Linked DNA regions of Homo sapiens: regions 2 and 3 are each linked to region 1. The links come from fine-mapping of genetic effects on gene expression. A gene starts in region 1. Each other region holds a variant in brackets. All regions are shown on one strand. Distances are from middle to middle.

The links. PIP is the estimated chance that this variant, and not a neighbour inherited with it, causes the effect.
Region 2: its variant is fine-mapped to the expression of GALNS in whole blood (TOPMed, PIP above 0.99).
Region 3: its variant is fine-mapped to the expression of GALNS in whole blood (INTERVAL, PIP 0.96).

The regions. Positions count from the first base shown.
Region 1 is chr16:88,853,107-88,859,950 of GRCh38, forward strand. It overlaps GALNS (galactosamine (N-acetyl)-6-sulfatase), which reads right to left and starts at 3,841. Exons shown (of 14, transcript NM_000512.5): 1 at 3,652-3,841. The coding sequence starts at 3,771. It overlaps TRAPPC2L (trafficking protein particle complex subunit 2L), which reads left to right and starts at 4,021. Exons shown (of 5, transcript NM_001318525.2): 1 at 4,021-4,077; 2 at 5,513-5,685; 3 at 6,557-6,644; 4 at 6,787-6,844. The coding sequence starts at 4,045. LOC107983950 (a long non-coding RNA gene) reads right to left here and starts at 3,474. Exons shown (of 2, transcript XR_933884.3): 1 at 3,345-3,474; 2 at 2,022-3,195. RefSeq lists silencers at 1,835-1,904, 3,574-3,973.
Region 2 is chr16:88,828,703-88,834,742 of GRCh38, forward strand. GALNS (galactosamine (N-acetyl)-6-sulfatase) reads right to left here. Exons shown (of 14, transcript NM_000512.5): 9 at 3,296-3,399. Among named protein-coding and RNA genes, the nearest start is that of APRT, 20 kb to the left of the region's middle. The variant G/A (reference allele first, on the strand shown) is at 3,279.
Region 3 is chr16:88,877,475-88,882,474 of GRCh38, forward strand. CBFA2T3 (CBFA2/RUNX1 partner transcriptional co-repressor 3) reads right to left here. Exons shown (of 12, transcript NM_005187.6): 9 at 3,817-4,015; 10 at 3,246-3,314; 11 at 1,796-1,986. Among named protein-coding and RNA genes, the nearest start is that of PABPN1L, 13 kb to the left of the region's middle. The variant CAG/C (reference allele first, on the strand shown) is at 2,074.

The DNA of each region.
Region 1 (6,844 bases):
TGGGCACGGTGGTGGGAGCCTGTAGTCCCAGCTACTCGGGAGGCTGAGGCAGGAGAATTGCTTGAACCTGGGAGACGGAGGTTGCAGTGAGCTGAGATCACACCACTGCAATCCAGCCTGGGTGACCAGAGTGAGACTCCATCTCAAAAAAAAAAAAAAAAAAAAAAAAGGCCTAAAAGCCCCCAAATGATTGTCCACGTTCAGCGAGCACAGCTGTGAGCCATGGATCAGTATCCTTCAGAATTTCAGAGTTTTAAGAAACGCAGTTTCCATTCCTACTGGTTGCTATGGGATTATTATGAAGACGAGCAGGCCAGTGCTTGTCTGTTTCAAACGAGGGGCACTGAGCAACCCTCCCCGGACTCTGGTGGCTCGACGAGGCTGCTGTGGCAACAGGAGCTGGCCTGGGTGGCCCTGACTCTCCACTTCCTCTGTGGTCAGGGCTGACCCTCCTTAACCCTATTTTCCAAATAAGGAGTGGAGACACAGAGTGCTGCTCGCCCTGGGAGGCAGGAGCTGTGTGTGGGCCAGAGTGGAACTTGTCACTGGGTCTCACCTGTCTCCAAGGCCCCAGAAGCCCTGGAGAGCAGAGTGGGCCACGCAGGTTTCCTCACTCACGCAGCAGGTGCCCAGGGTACTACGAAGCCAGGCCGCGCTGGACCGTGGGTCAGTGAAAGGCCAGGGCAGGGCAGCCCTGGGGAGTGCAGGTAGACCCGTCCTTGCCCGGCTCAGCTCCCCCTGGACAGGTGGGGGCTCTTGCCAGCTGCTCTCACCCCTGAGTCCCAGCTTCCCCTTCTGGTCCCGACTCTGGGGGCAATGGTTCTCTCCCGGGTCAGTGTGACCAGTTGGAGAGTGGCTTCTGGCCATGAGGGGTGCAATAAGCTAGTTTTGGGGACAACCCTTTTCTGAAACTGCACTTGCTTAGACGAAAGGGGGGCCCAGGCCCCCCACTGCCCAGCCACAGAGGACTGGATAGGGGGAGACTGGGCTGGAGGCAGCCGGTCCCTGGAGGGCCATGCTCCAAAATCTGAACTTGAGACATGCACACTCGTCCTCAAGTGGTGCTGGGCCCAGAGCTGTGGGTCATCAAGCCATCCCATGTCATGCCAGAGGCCGAATGACCTGTTGCAGGTTCAGACGCCAGCGCCCTGGCAGAAACAACCGGTCTGCAGTGCAGGAAGAGGTGTGGACAGGGCTGCGGAGGAAGCCCCGGACTCCAAGGAGAGAAGACAGCCTGTGAGGACCCCCTTGCACCCTGGGCCACGTCAGGGCACCTCGGGGCTCCACTGTGAGCTTCTGTGGCTCTCACCTGCCAGCATCCCTGCCCTGTCCTGGCAGCTGCACCATGGGCCCTTCAGGGAACCCCCTCTCTGCTGGGTCCAGGCAGATGAGATGATCAGGGGCAGTCTCCCTTCTGGGGTAGGCCCGAGGCTCCGAGGCCTGGGCTGGACAGGTCAGCATGTGCCCCTCCCCCAGTGTGCTTGGCGCAGGGCTGAGACCCACATCACGCTAACATGACACGGGCAGAGCCAACCTCCCACTGGGTCTGCTGACTGCAGGGGTGACTTGGAGTCACCTAGGACCATCACAGGCTGAGTGAGGATGTGGCCAGTTCAGAGGCAGCAGAGCCACGAAAGGGGAAACTCGCCAGGCGGCCCTGGTCTGTCGACTCAGGAGGGCCAGGGAATCCCCACTGTTGCTTGTCACTTTGACTTCATCTTCTGCTGTCTGCATCAGAAAGTCCTTACAAGTACACCTACCGGCCAGGACACAGCTCCTCTGGGGTTCTTTAGGCGTCAGCTGCCAAACGACCCCACAAGCCACACAGTGGAGGCCACAGAACAGGTGCCCAGGTGGGCGGGGCTTCCTGTCACCCTCCCCCACATGTGCCCCGGTGGCCACACCCCACCCCTCCACCCTGCACGGCCTGAACCCTTGCTGTCCTATGGAAACGTAGGGTGAGTCCACATGCAATTCCCTATTTACCGGGAGCCACATTAGAAAAGCAGAAGTAGGTGAAATACAGACTAACTTTATATTTTATTTAACCCAACATAACCAAAATATTATTTCGACAAGTCTTCAACATAAAAAATTATTCATGAGCTGCCCCGCCTCACCCCTCTGTCCTCTGAGAAAGTCAGGAAAAGCAGAAACTTAACAGGGAGGCTTCACCTGCAGAGCCCAGCTCATCCAGCGAAGCTATGCTGGCCCAGAAGGAGTTACACAATGAAAAGAAGAAATTCTGAAACAAAGTATCTACACTGGCCCAGAGGAACTTCAAAAGTGAAAGGATGAAATTCTGAAGCAAAGTATCTTTAGGAGGGAGATGCCACTCAGTGCAGAGAAAGGCCCGGCTACTGCTGTCAGGACACGGACCCCTGGGCGCTGGAGAGCGTGCTCTGGAAAGCAGTCACTGCACACAAATAAGACATATGAGATGGAAAAGCAGCTGCCCAGGACTGTCGGCTGTCACCCCTGGGTGGGGAAATTATGGGTGGTGTCTGTTATCTTTTCAAGTATATCTTTATGTTAAAAAACCATTAATTTAATAAAATTGTTAAGTGAGATATTTTACATTATTTTTCTTTCACCAAGTCTTCTAAATCTGTGTATTTTACACTACCAGCACCTTCCAATTCCGACAGCCACGACTGCCCAGCCCTTGGGTGTGGCCCGTGGCCCCCACTGGTCAGCACAGGTGGGTCTGAAGGCACCTGTCAGGGTCTCTGCTGGTCGGAGCCAGCACACAGGGGCTGAGCGACACCGACGGCCCAAAACTGTCTGGTACTCGGTGTCGTCCCAGTCCTCACACACAACGTGAGCACGGCGGGACAGGTGTAACCCCCCAGGTGTGGCAGCTGAGGTTCAAGAATGGAAGTGACCCCCAAGCTTGGAGACAGTAGGGTTTCAACCCAGGTGTGTCTGGGGTCCTGCACGGTGACCCATGCCCCAGGCAGGCTCATTCCTGAGTCTCCAGGTGGCTCCCACAAGGAGTTAGGGAAGGAGGCCTCCAGGCTGGCTGTGACCCCTGACCCCGCACTTGCCCACCAGGAGACATTCCAGCCTTTCAGTTCTTCAGACCTTAGGGACACCTGACCTTCGCTCAGCATTCTCCAGAGGACAGAGACAGCCGTCAGGTAAGACTGGAGCCCAGCGGGGGGACCCGGCGGCCCGAGGTGGCGGGAGTGATTCCTAGGGCGACGCAGCTCTCAGGCAGGGCGGCAGGAGCAGCCTCTTCCTCCCTTTGGGGAGGCCACGCTGCGCGCCCACCTTTCCCAAGAGTAGAGGGCGGGAAAGGTCAGACGGGGGAGGCAGGGCCCGGTAGCACGCCGGCCACCCACCTGCCAGGGAGGACGCTGTCCCGGTCATGCAGCACAGTGGCAGCGCGTGTGGTGATCGGTGACCGCCGAGACCCCACGCCTGGACCCCGCGGCCACTCCCCGAGGGGCCTCCCCCTCCCCGCACGGGGATACCCCCCGTCCCCTCCCCCTCCTCCTCCCCGCGCGGGGCCTCCCCCCTTCCCCAAGGGGCCTCCCCTCACCTCTCCCCCCACCCCGCCCGCCCTTCCCCCACCTCGCTCCTCCCTCCATCCGCCCCTCCCCTCCCCGCCCCACCCCGGCCCTGCCCCGTCCCACCGCCCGCACTCACGTCGTCCATGAGCAGGAGCAGGATGTTGGGGGGCTGCGGGGCGCCCGAGGCCCCCATCCCCGCGGCGCTGAGCACCAGCAACAGCTGCCACCACCTCGTCGCCGCGACAACCGCCGCCATGGCAACCACGGGAGCCGCGGAGCCCCGGCCAGCGAGCCGACCTAGCGAGCGTCCGCCGGCCCTTCCGGCTGGGCTGCGGGGCGGGGCCTGGACGGCCACGTGACTCGCGGGGCGGGGCCAGAGTCCGCGGAGGGACGGGAGGCGGGGCCTGGACTGCCTCGTGACCAGTGGGGCGGGGCCTGAGCCAGCTGTGTGCGGATGGGGCGGGGCTTTGGAGGCCGCGTGACCAGCGGCGGGTCACGTGACGCGGTGCCTGGCGCCGAGCCTCCCAAGATGGCGGTGTGCATCGCGGTGATTGCCAAGGAGGTGCGTACGCGCGGCGTGGGGCGTCCGGGCTCGCACCATCCTCGGCTCTCCGCTTTCTTTCTACTTCTTCCCTGGGCTTAGAAGGCACCTTAGGAAATGGGACCTGGAGGAGGCCTTCGCCGAGCTCCAGCGGTCAGGGGCTTCGCGGTGGACGAGCCGCCAGGCAGACCCTGACTGAGACCCCAGTTCCGCGCTCGCCCGTCCCGCTGCTGAACGCACCCCTCGGCGCAGCAGGTCTCCTCCCCGCCAGGACCCACCAGAAACCTAGGTGGTCCCGGGCACTACCTCCGTCCTCCGTCCTCAGCAGGTTCTGCCCGTTCTCCCGTCCAGCGCTGGTTCCCCGCGGACGGCGGCCCCGGCCCTCCTGCCAGTCTCCCCGGAGCCGAGTTAAAAACAAATCGGATCCTGTCACGCCTCTGCCTGAGACCTCTGCAGTGGCTTCTCGTTGCCTTAGGATGCTGTCTGAATAACCTGCTCTGGGATCCTTTCCCCCCATAACCCTTGGCACTCTCCGCTCCAACCAAACAATTCTGCAGCTCCCTGGACATGCTCTGCCCTCTCACCTGTGGGCCTTTGCACGCGGAACACCTCTCCCCAGCTCCCATCCTCTTTACTGGCCCACATACATTTCAACTGGAAAGCATTTTCTGAAGGCTAAGACTGAGCTGGGTGGCTGCCCACACGCTCCTGCTGCACGGAGCCTTCATTTCCTAGCCAGGGTCTCCCGAGACCAGACTCGAGACCGCTCCCTGCTGGGCGGTGGCTGCTGCTAAGCTGCTCATGGGCTTCCCTCTTGGCCAAGATGATCATTTGCTTGTTTGTGGGTTTATTGACTAGGTATCACTCCCCACGAGGGTAGCGAGGACTCTTGTTCACTGTATTTGTGCAGGACCCAGTGCTGAACACACACAGGGTAAATGGTGGTGTGTGAAAGACCGAGAAAGAAGCTGTTAATTCTGGGCTTCCAATGGTCAGAAATGCAGAGATGAAGGGAATTTGAGCTGAGTCTTGAAGGGTTTAGTAAAAGGGTCACTGTCAAGGTGAAGAAAAGCCAGTATTGAGGGTGCTGTATTTGGGTGAGCCATGCAGAGTTAGAGGTGGGCTGAGGCAGAGTGGCCTCCAGGAGAAGGTGAGAGGCGTGCCCAGGTGCCAGGCTTGATCGGCAGGCTGTGCTCAGGCCCATTTTTCTGATTCATTTTTTCTTTTCCGCCCACCCTACTGCTGCTGCTTTGCAAACAACACATAAATCTCCTTAGGTTAGCTGGGATCCCCTGAAGGCAGTGCCCACTGCGGCATAGAGAATGAAGCGGTGGGCCTTAGAGCATGGGAATGCGTTCCCCGGGTGGCTGCAGGTCACGGCTCTGCAGCATAGTTCAGAGCTGGTGTGCGCTGGGTGGAGTCTTGTCCTTTCAGTCGCCGTCATCCTTTCTTGCAGAATTACCCCCTCTACATTCGCAGCACCCCTACGGAGAACGAGCTGAAGTTCCACTACATGGTGCACACATCTCTGGACGTGGTGGATGAGAAGATCTCCGCAATGGGGAAGGCCCTGGTCGACCAGAGGGAGCTGTACCTGGGCCTGCTCTACCCCACGGAGGACTACAAGGTGTATCTTTCAGGGCAGGGTGTGTGTCAGGGAGGACCTACAGTTGCAAGATGTACTTTAGGATCAGATAACTTGAAACCTTTTAGAAGAAAAAGAGGTGAGAGTTTTTAGCCAGCCAGGGAATTAGGGTAGCTTGAGGTGAATGAAGGCCTGTAACTCTTCTCTTTCATTGGAAGAGCCATTTGGGAAAAGCAAGGCTAGAATTCCCCGTAGAATGTTTTGGTTTGCACGTGTCCGTTGTCTGGTTTGCAGAGGAAGTGGGACACTTCTGCTTTGTACCTGCAAGGATTTCTTTCTGTGCTTTTCAGGGGGAGCCACCACCTTTGAGCAGGGGATAATAGTTTCATTTATTTCATTAGGCCTTGCCTCTTATGTCACTAGACACTCGTCTAGTCCCTTGGGACAAATCACTTGAGGCCATGGAATTCAAAGACCTTCCCAAAAGTCATCATGTAGCCTGTCCATGGTGACATTTGCTAGTAGCCACTATTTTACAAAATAATGTGGCCTCTAGAGAGGGGATCCGCCTTGTTCACGAAGCCTCTGGTTTTGCAGTTAACTTTCCGGGCCAGGCATTGATTCATGAAGAGGGTGAGGTGTTCCAGACAGACAGACTCGGAGTCTAGGTGGTTCGGCTCCTGGAGTGTGAACTGGGTAAGGCTTGGCTGCCTGCTCTTCGCTTCTCCTGCAAACACCAGACGTCGCCCTAGCAAAGTATTTAGGCTTGTACCCAGCACGGCCACTGCAGGACCAGCCCAGCATGGGCATTTCCTGTGATTCAAGGTTGCCACATTTCTCCAAAGTGAGGGCCCACAGAGGGCCCTCCACCGGCAGTCCCTGTGTTACGAGTGCCTTCCCTAACCAGCTGTGCAGATACGGCTACGTCACCAACTCCAAGGTGAAGTTTGTCATGGTGGTAGATTCCTCCAACACAGCCCTTCGAGACAACGAAATTCGCAGCGTAAGTCAGGGAGTTAGAGGGCCACGCCCGAGTGGGTGTTTTGTTTTTCCTTTTTGACTTTGTTTTGAAATGCTGAGAAACTAAAAATCTGGCAGTGGCTGTGTGTATGTGGCAAGGTCATGGTTTGCTGGGTCTTTTTCAGATGTTCCGGAAGCTACACAACTCCTACACAGACGTGATGTGCAACCCCTTCTACAACC
Region 2 (6,040 bases), 25 kb before region 1:
CATTTTTCTCAGCTGGAGCCTTTCCGTGGGCAGGTGGGTGGGGAGGTCTGTGGGGTACAGACGTCCCTGAACCCACTACGCATGGAGCCGGGCGGCGCTGGGGTGGCTCCCCTCACCTTTTCCAGGCTGCTGCTGAGCACAGCCACGGGTGGCTCCCAGCCTGGGGAGCAGAGCCCCAGCCCTGTCCCGGCCTGGTGGGCACCCACTGCAGTGGGGAACCTCACATCTCCCAGACCTACGCAGGTCCCGAGTCTCATGCCATCGTCTCCCAGACCTACGCGGGTCCCGGGTCTCACGCCATCGTCTCCCAGACCTACGCGGGTCCCGAGTCTCACGCCAACGTCTCCCAGAGCTACACGGGTCCCGAGTCTCATGCCAACGTCTCCCAGAGCTACACAGTTCCTGAGTCTCATGCCAACGTCTCCCAGAGCTACGCGGGTCCCGAGTCTCATGCCAACGTCTCCCAGAGCTACACAGTTCCTGAGTCTCATGCCAACGTCACAGTGTTCACTGAGTGACCACCGGCCACTCCCTGCAGGTGCCCCCACACAAGAAACCAAATGGCCCATCCCTACCCTCAGGGGGATGGCGCTCAGGGGAGTGGAGGGGGCGGCACAGCTGCATTCTGTCCTAGGGGCACCCCACACCACAAAGGAGGCCGTGCCCACCACCCATGCTTCTCCTGCACAACAAGGCGGTCACTCTCACAGCCACTCTGCCCTTCACACGGAGCCGCAGCTGCCTTTTCAGTGAACCGTGGGGTCTCTTCCACCTTCAGGGTCCTGGGAACTTGGGGTGGCCCAGGAGTCCCATGTCAGACAAAGGCTGCCCTGGGCAGGGTCTGAGGGAGGCCCAGACAGCTGTAGAGAACAGGCGCCCTTGGCAGTTGCCGCCCCCAGTCCCACTGGCTGCTGGGGACACAGGGGACTGCCCAGGCATGGTGGGCAGGAGTGCAGGATCCACAGCCAGGCGCCTGCTCCCACCTCTGCTCCCTAGTAATTGGGGGACCCTGACAGACGACTTCCTCTCTGGCCTCAGTTTCCTGATGTGTAGAATGAGTGGGGAAGAGGAGGATCTGGCAGAACAGCAGCCAATCCCTGGGCCTTCAGGCGCGCGACCAGGCCAGGCAATTGAGGCGGCAGACACAACGCAGGCCGCTCATCAGCGAGGCTCGAAACAGGGAGGCCAGCCTGGGTGAGCAGGGGGTGGGGTGGGACACAGCCACAGGGTCCTCAAAAGTGGAACAGGCGCCGGGCGCGGTGGCTCACGCCTGTAATCCCAACACTTTCGGAGGCCGAGGCGGGCAGATCACGAGGTCAGGAGATTGAGACCATACTGGCCAACATAGTGAAACTCCGTCTCTACTAAAAATACAAAAATTAGCCGGGCATGGTAGAGCATGCCTGTAGTCCCAGCTACTCGGGAGGCTGAGGCAGGAGAATCGCTTGAATCTGGGAGGTAGAAGTTGCAGTGAGCCGAGATTGCACTACTGCACTCCAGCCTGGGCAACAGAGTGAGACTTCATCTCAAAAAAAAAAAAAAAAAAAAAAAAAACGTGGAACAGGAAGGCCAGGGACAGATGCCTGCGTGCTGCTGGCTTTGACGGTGGAGGGGCCAGGAGCTCAGGAATGGGGCAGCTACTAGGATTGGGAAAAGGCAGGGAACAGAACATCTCCTGGAGCCTCCAGAAGGAGCTGGCCCCACGCACGTCTTCACTCAGCCCCATGAGCCCCATGTTGACTCTGGCTGTCGTCATGTGTGATGTTCCAGCTGCCACTGGGAGCCCCCCCCATCCTCGTGGGGCCACTTGAAGGGGATGGCTGCCTCTGGAGGCCATTGGGAGGGCAAAAGACTAAGAAACAGTGAAGAAACAGCGGTCGTTTACAAACACCAGACTCAGCCCCGCGTGTTGATGGGTATGTCTGGCTCAAGTGCCTGTTACAGAAGACCACACGGTGTGATTCTCAACCGAGGGGCAGCTTCCTGGGCCAGAGGAGATGCAGTGACAGCATGAAGGTGGTCACACTGAGATGGCAGGGCGCACCCTCGCCCAGCCAGGACCCAGGCCACCACCGAGGTCCGCACCCCATGCGGCAGACAGACACCAACGGTCTCGTGTCGGGCTGCTGCTGTTCTCTGAGTGTCCTTAGGACACTGGCCTGAGAAGATGTGCTTTGGGGGAAAAAACGACCGATTCTGTAGTAGACAGACAGGTTTTTAAACACTCAGCCTGCTCTAAGCCCCTTCTAGAAGCTCATGGTGCCCACCAGCATGCTAAAGGCACTGATAAGTCCTGCAGGGAAGAAACCTGTTTAGCTCCATTTAACTCAGGACTGCTGCGGTGACTGGACCACGGATGTCTCCTCACCACACAGTCATTACCAGCACCCACGTGACACACGGCAGTATACGTGGCTCCAGTCCCCACCGAGAGCCTTCCTGCCTGTCTGACCAAGCACAGCAAGCCCTACACACCGAGAGCCACCGAGAGGGACCTGGTTCCGAGGAGAGCGGTGAGGCCGAGCACGGGGTGCGTGGGGAGGAGAGCGGTGAGGCCGAGCACGGGGTGCGTGGGGAGGAGAGCGGTGAGGCCGAGCACGGGGTGCGTGGGGAGGAGAGCGGTGAGGCCGAGCACGGGGAGCGTGGGGAGGAGAGCGGTGAGGCCGAGCACGGGGTGCGTGGGGAGGAGAGCGGTGAGGCCGAGCACGGGGTGCGTGGGGAGGAGAGCGGTGAGGCCGAGCACGGGGTGCGTGGGGAGGAGAGCGGTGAGGCCGAGCACGGGGTGCGTGGGGAGGAGAGCGGTGAGGCCGAGCACGGGGTGCGTGGGGAGGAGAGCGGTGAGGCCGAGCACGGGGTGCGTGGGGAGGAGAGCGGTGAGGCCGAGCACGGGGTGCGTGGGGAGGAGAGCGGTGAGGCCGAGCACGGGGAGCGTGGGGAGGAGAGCGGTGAGGCCGAGCACGGGGTGCGTGGGGAGGAGAGCGGTGAGGCCGAGCACGGGGTGCGTGGGGAGGAGAGCGGTGAGGCCGAGCACGGGGTGCGTGGGGAGGAGAGCGGTGAGGCCGAGCACGGGGTGCGTGGGGAGGAGAGCGGTGAGGCCGAGCACGGGGAGCGTGGGGAGGAGGGTGGTGAGGCTGAGCATGGGGTGCGTGGAGGCTGAGCACAGGGTGCGTGGGGAGGAGAGCGGTGAGGATGAGCACGGGGTGCATGGGGGAGGTGGCCAGTGAGGGGCGCACACACCCTGGGATGGCTGCAGGCCTGGACCTGCTGCCCGGCAGACC[G/A]GTGGACGCTGACTCACCTGGCCTGCAGTGACGTGCCCTGGCCACCATGCGAGGGCAGGCTCCCTCATCCCTCCTTCAAACGTGGTCTGCTTCCCACACAGAAAGGGGCCGTTGCTGCCACCTGGGAGAGAGGGGCCCTTGTCAGGCCACTGGGACCAGATGTCCCCAGGCCCTCCCCCTCCCTCCCCACTGAGTCACTGAGACTGGTCATAGGGACAAAGGGCCCGGCCAAGGCACTCTGGCTGGAGTGCATGATCCGAGCCTCGGGGTGGCTCTCCAGGGGCTCATCTGAGATGCCGCGGCTGCAAAGTCTCCTGGAGAAAGTGGGGACATCATGCCCACTGAGGAAATGGAAACACAACCATACGGTGTCAGCAAGACTCAGAGAGGTACACTCCCGCAGCAGAGGCCCTGGGTGCCACGTGCGCAGCTGCCGACTGGTGCTTCCCGAACGTGAATGTTCACAAGCCTCCCGGTGTTTGGGGTACTTAAAATGCAGCCAACTTCTGGCCTCCCCATGGTTCTGACTCAGTCAGTCACGGTGGGGCGTAGGAATCTGTGTTTCTGACAAGCCCCCAAGACCGGATTTTGGTTTCTGAACCATCACTTGTGGGAAGTGGTCACGGGGCAAAGGCCATCTCAGGTGACTACACCATCCCTGGCTCACTCCCAGACATGGAAGAAGGGGGTGGGGGGCCCACGTCAGGGACAAAAGCCACCCCTGCTGCTGTAGCCTGAGCCACTTGAGGCTCTCTCAGCTTCGGGTCCCCTGAATAAAAGGGAAAAAGGAAACGAAGGGGCCGGCTGCGGTGGCTCATACCTGTCATCCCAGTACCTTGGGAGGCCGAAGCAGGGGGACTGCTTGAACTCGGGAGTTCAAGACTAGCCTAGACTGGTTTCTACCAAAGAGAGACCACGGCTAAACCCCATCTCTACAAAAATACAAAAATTAGCTGGGTGTGGCGGCACGTCCTGTAGTCCCAGCTACTCAGGAGGCTGAGGTGGGAGGATTGCTGGAGCCCAGGAGGTCAAGGCTACAGTGAGCTGAGATCGCGCCACTGCACTCCAGCCTGGGCAACAGAGCGAGACTCCTTCTCAAAAAAAAAAAAAAAAAAAAAAAGAAAATATTTTTCCGGCAGTGAAAAAGTGAACCATCCAGGGGAGGCAAAGTCACCGCAGCTCCTTCCTGCGCTGCCATCCAACCCCGAGCGGCAGCGTGGGGAAGCCTCTGAACGGAACCTCGCAGGCAGCTCTGCTCAGAGCCCCTCACGGGCAAACACGCCAACACCCGCAACCCGGCCTGTCTCAGGGAGGGCCCTGCTCACAGCAGCAGAGCCACAGAACCTGTGAAGGGACAATGGACACTGAGCTGGGGACACTGGCCACTTCTAGGGGACACTCAGGCTCACAGGAGGCCATGCTGTGCTTCTTCTCCTTCCCTCCCTCCCTTTCTTTCCTTCTCTCTCCCATCCCCTTTTTTTTTTTTTTTGACATGGAGTCTCGCTCTGTCGCCCAGGCTGGAGTGCAGTGGTGCGATCTCGGCTCACTGCAAGCTCCGCCTCCCGGGTTCAAGTCATTCTCTTGACTTAGCCTGCCCAGCAGCTGGGACTACAGGTGCCCGCCACCACGCCTGGCTAATTTTTTGTTTTTCAGTAGAGATGGGGTTTCACCGTGTTAGCCAGGATGGTCTCGACCTCCTGACCTCGTGATCCACCCGCCTCAGCCTCCCAAAGTGCTGGGATTACAGGTGTGAGCCACCACGCCCAGCCCCCTCCCCTGCTTTCTTTCTCTGGGATGTTCTGTTTCTAGTCTTGTGCTGGGTGCTGGGTGTGTGGGTTCTCATCTTGTTACAAATAGGTACATATACCATTTGTTGGTATGAAACATGCCATTTGTTGGTATGAAACATTCCATCATTTAGAAATGAAGACTCAGGTCGCTGGGACCCTTGCCCCTGCTGGCTGGTGGTTGTGGGTGCTGGCGTCGAGGTGGGCCCCCCCGGGCTCCCCATGGGGAATGACGGCCAACACCACCCTCCCCCCACCCAGCACCCTGCCTCCTGGGAGCTGCCTGTAGCCCTCCACACATGGGTCTGTTGGGGGCCTCGACTCGTGGGTCTGACTCCAGTGGGCGGGAGATGGAGCTGTCCGGAGGGCCTGCACGAGAGCCAGGCTCACCCAGGGGAGCTATCTGGTGGGACGTGGCGCGAGGGAGCCTATGCTTCTGTTTTGGCTTTCAGCTGTGCTGGTTTCTATCACTTGAAACTCTGAAGCCCCCAATCCCCGCAGCACACTGGGCTGTAGGCGCCCCCCGACATGGTCTGGGACGAGGCTGTAGGGCTCTCCCCACCACGTGGTCTGGGAAGAGGCTGCAGGGCCCCCCCCCGCGTGGTCTGGGAAGAGGCTGCAGGGCCCCCCCGCGTGGTCTGGGAAGAGGCTGCAGGGCCCCCCTCAGCGTGGTCTGGGAAGAGGCTGTAGGGCCCCCCCCGTGTGGTCTGGGAAGAGGCTGCAGGGCCCCCCTCAGCGTGGTCTGGGAAGAGGCTGTAGGGCTCTCCCCACCGCGTGGTCTGGGAAGAGGCTGCAGGGCCCCCCTCAGCGTGGTCTGGGAAGAGGCTGTAGGGCCCCCCCCGTGTGGTCTGGGAAGAGGCTGCAGGGCCCCCCCCCGCGTGGTCTGGGAAGAGGCGGGTTCAGGTTTGTTGGCGCTGGGGATGGGTCAGGCATTCATCAGTGCCGAGCGGGGGAAAGGCTGAAGCTCCATCCCAG
Region 3 (5,000 bases), 23 kb after region 1:
GTCTCACGCTCCAGCCCACCCAGATAGGTCTGCGCTGTGCTAACTGGACAACGACCCCTGCCTCCTCTCCAGGAAGCCCTCCTGAGCTCACCAGGCTCCAAAACCGCAAAACCAAAGGGCGTGGCCCCGGCAGGATTGAGGCTGCTGAGATCTCACCATCCGCCTCTGCTGCATCCACACCCACCCGTCCCCCTCCCCACCTCTGCCCCACCCCTGCCTCTGCTGCACCCCCTCCACCTCTGCCCCCACCCTGTGGTGGGCTCTGCTCCCTTCCCGTAGGGTGAGTTGTGCCCTAGGCATCCCTGTGGGCAGAGGGGGTGGGGGATGCCACAAAAAGCCTGTGGGCAGAGCAGGTAGGAGATGCCACACAAAGCCTGAGCATATTTCTTCTTGGGGCCTGGCTGGATCTCTCACAGACGGTTGGGCTGTGGGGTGGGAAGCCCAAACCTGCCCTAGGGGAGAAGCCCAGGTCCCTATTTGGCCTCCAAAGCCTCTGGTACCACCTCCCACCCCACCTCGCCCTCACTGCCACTGCAGCAGCAGCTTCCCTGCGGACTAGGCACTGCCAGGCACAGTCCCCGCTCCAGGCCCTGGCCCCTGCCGGTCCCTCCGCTGGGCCCGCTCCCCCGATGCCTGCGTGGCCAGCTTCATTCCTCCCGGCATCTGCTCAGGTGTCACCTGCCGTGAGGCCTCCACAGCCCCACTCCCCACACACTTCCACCTCCCGAAACTGCACGCCTCACTTCTGCGTTTGGTGTTTCCTTCTCAGTGCCAGCTCTGTGAGAGTTGTGCCTGTGGTGGTCTAGCTTCTCCCTAGCTGAGAGCAGGCGTGGAAATGGCCGGTGCAGAGACCCCTGAATCGATGGGGCTCCATCTCCTCCCACCCCGGGGCTGGCCCAGGCACAGATGCACACAGGGGCTTCAGATAGAGATCCGCCCTATCTCAAGGGACAGTCCTGGGGCTCCCCTGGAAAGGGTCTCTCCCTGTCCCCTCTTCGTGGACAAGGCAGAAAAGGGTCGCGGAGGGTCCTCTGCCCCCGCCTGCCTCCCAGGTGCACGGGCACAAGCATCGTAATTCTCAGGCCTGCCGTGTGCACCGGGAGGGAGCCGGGCGCCTCGGACGCCACCTGGGGCCCTCACAGCTCTCCTGGATCCTCCTGTTCTCACAGGCTAGAGAACACGGGTTTCAGGCCAGGCACAGCGGCTCGCTTCTGTCATCCCAGCACTTTGGGATGCCGAGGCGGGTGGATCACCTGAGGTCAGGAGTTCGAGACCAGCCTGGCCTACGTGGCAAAACCCCATCTCTACTAAAAATACAAAAATTAGCCAGGTGTGGTGGCGGGCGCCTGTAATCCCAGCTACTTGGGAGGCTGAGGCAGGAGAACCGCTTGAACCCGGGAGGCGGAGGTTGTAATGAGCCGAGGTCATGCCACAGCAACAAGATCACTTCAGTCTGGGCAACAAGAGTGAAACTCCATCTCAGCATCAGCCAACCTGGGCTCGAGTCCTGGCCCCACCGCTTCCCAAGGCCGTGACCTCAGACAAGCTGCCAACCCTCTCGAGCCCTCAGTTTCTGGAACTACAGAACGGGGACATCCATAGGACGCCTCACTGAACCATGTGGGATCTCTGTGCTGATAAAGCACAGTGTGGGCGGGGATGGCGTGCCTGCTGCAGGATGCCCGTGACAACTGTGCTGATGCCACGTGGAGGCTCAGAATCCTCATGGGGGTGGCGTGGGACCGCACGGGAGCCGAGGCAGGGGATGGGTGTCAGCGTGGCCGGGTGGCCCTACCTCGCTGGAGTCCTCCTGCTGGTTGATGACCGTCAGGGCGTCCTCGGAGGCCTGCCGCTTCGCCTCGGCCAGGGCCCGCTCCATCTTGGCACGCTCCGTGGTGATGAGCTCGTGCGCTTTGCGCTCCGCGTCCGACACGGCTTTCTGCAGCTCCGACATGGCCTGCCGCTTCACCTCATTCACGGCCTCTTCTGCAAAGGACATGGGCAGGGCTGGCGGTCACATGGGCCATCCCAGATGGGTCTCTGGACTTCCTACGCGTGGCCACAACCTGGGGA[CAG/C]GGGCTGTGTGCAGCTGAACACACGTACCATCTGTGCACACAAAGGCACATGTTGATGGGGCTGTAGGCAGCTGAACACACGTAGCATCTGTGCACACACAGACACACGTTGATGGCCCTCATGCCTGTGCAGACAAGTGCATGCAAATAAACACAGGCATCCCAGGCATGTGTGTGCAAAGCTGGGTCACGTGGTGTCACAAGTCAAAGCTTGCACTCTACCGCAGCGGCTCCCCAGGCACTGCACCCCTGCAGGGCAAGGGCGAGGCCCACCCCAGGGCCTGGTCAGCCAGGGGCGCACCCGGAATCTGCATTCCTAACGCGAGCCGGGGGAGCTGCTGCTGACCTGAAGCACTTGGATAACTCTGCCGTTCCGCCTTCACCTCTGGCCCCACCCAGACGCAGCCCAGGAAGCCCCCTCGTCCAGGGCTCTGTGCTGTCACCCCAGACCCTGCTGTTATCCTCACCGCACTTGCCATCCTTTAACCTGGCTGGCCTCTGAAGACCATGCTCCCCGACCCACACACAGCCACACACAGATCCTGATCTGTGCTAAGATGGGGTAGGCTCAGAGCAGCCTCCAGGGAGCACTGCCCACGCAGCTGGGGAGGCCATGTTTCAACTCCACCACTGAAAGAGACCCTGAGGCCAGCTGGAGACCCCGGTACCGCTGCCCAACCCTAACCCTAACCCTAACCCCAACCCTAACCCCTCTTGCTGCCCACATATCTGGCTCTGCCCCAGCCCCTCCCCCAAGGCTGATTCCCACGGCATGAGCAAATGTCCCCACAGCCTTGCCCAGCGCTCAGCTCCACGTCTGCCCCTGTTCTGACCCCATTCTGCCCGGACTCTGGCCCCGCGTGCCTGACGCGCCCAGGCTCCGAGTGTGTGCGCTTCTGCGTGCCCTCCTGGGTGTGCAGGTCCAGGACCCACTTTATTCTGCTGGGCGGCCACCGGTCCGTTTCCTGGTAGGCGCAGGTAGCAGCTGTCCTGCCCTAAGTGTGAACCTACTCTGACCTCTCCGTGAGCCACACAGCGGAATGCAGAAAGCCTTGTAGCCTGAGCCCCCAGAGAGAGACAGAAGCTCTTCAAAGCTGAGCCGGTGAGAGGCGCATCTGGGGCCCTGGCCTCCCACAGCTCTGCTGGCCAGGCCCCTGCACCCCCACTCACCAGCCTTCCTCCAGATGTCCTCAGGCACGTAGCCGGTGAGGGTCCTCGGCAGGAACTCGCGAGGCACGTCTGAAACAGGGGCCGGCGTCACACAGGATGGGCCACGCGGCTGCCCCTCCCACGCTGGGGCCCTCCCCACCCTGGCTGGGCCCTGAGTGCAGGGCGTGAGTGTGTGCGTCCCTGGGGGGAGGCCCAGGTGCCCTCGGACAAGGTCTGGCTCAGGCACCCAGGGCAGTGCCCGGGCACGGGGGGCATTGGAGCTGTGGACCTTGGACTCGGCTGGGAGCCGTGTGTGTCCTGGGCCTCTCCTGTGTCAGCATTCGTCGCTGAGGCGGAGAAGCAGAGACCCTCAGGGCCTCCCAGCTCCGAGCCTCTGGCCCACCAGACGCTCTGAGCTCCAGGCTTCCTGGCAGACCAGCCCGTGTTTTCCTACAAAGTGAAAAAGGTGCCTCTTTCTCAAGCGAAACTGTTCTGCCTGGTGTTTCGTTGCATTGCCTGCCTGACAGCTCCCAGGTGTCCGCCCCACCAGAGCACCCCGTGTCTGCTCCCTCCCCCCACACCCCACACGCACCTAGCTGAGGCCCTTCGGGACCGGCGGAGCTGCTGCGGGGCCGGGCCGCGGCGGGAGCGGGGCCCTTCTTTGTGTCCTCGGCGTCGCTGTAGCGCCGCGCCCAGTGGTTGAGCTCCTCGCGGTCGGCCTCCTGGCACCTGCGCAGCACCGTGAGCGAGCGCCGCGTCTTCTCCACCATGTCCATGATGCAGTTCAGGAGCTGGGGGCGGGCGGCGCAGCCTTCAGCACCTCAGAGGGACCGGGACGCACCAGACACTCCCCCAGCCCACTCGGCCAGAGCCCCGGACAGGATGGGTGCCCGACCAGCCCACCGCCCGTGAGAGTAAGGGGGTGAGGGAGGGCCCACCTCCATGGCTTGCAAAGATGGGTCCCTAGCCTGGGACTGCCGAGCGCCTGGGGGTACCAGACTCACATGGACACGTGCCTAGACGCACGCAGGAGTTTGGGATTCTCCTTTTTAACCCGCTCAGCGGGGCTCTGCCTCAGGGACCTGGCTTTCCGCCTGGGCTCCCCTTCCAAAAAGCATGAGGGCGAGGGGCGAGGCTGACAACAGTGCTGGGAGGGGTGCTGGCCCCATGCCTGGCGACCCCTCCTGGGACGTGCTGCAGGATGGGGTGGGTGGGTTCTGAGGAGCCCAGTTCCGGGCCGTCCCCGAACACGTCCTGCCTCAAAGAGGCCTCGGCACTGCTTTTGCCCACACTTCTTGCAAGACTCAGGATAGACTCTGGGAAGAGCCAGTGAGCAGAAAGTAAGTGGAGGGAAGCAAGGCCCGCCATGAGGGTTTTAGGAATCCTCCTCCCTGGGCCTCTCGAGATGCCTGGGCTGCGCTGACAGCTGGGAGGAGGGGGGCTCAGGTGAAGGACCCAGCCGCTGCGCAGGGACGGCGCAGGCCACACAGGAGGGCACTGAGCTCAGGGGCGCCCACACAGCCCTGCTGTCTCCAGCAGCCCCAGGCCCCATGGGGCAGAGCCATGGCCGTGTTTATGCATAGGCATACAGGTGTGGCTGTGTGGGGACATGGCTGTGTGGGTGTAGCTGTGTGTGGGCATGGCTGTGCGTGGGTGTGGCTGTGTACATGGGGGGGTTGTGTGCATGGGTATGGCTGTGTGTGTGGGTGTGGCTGTGTGTGTATGGCTGTGTGTGGGTGTGGCTGTGTGCGTGGGCGTGGCTGTGTGCGTGGGGGT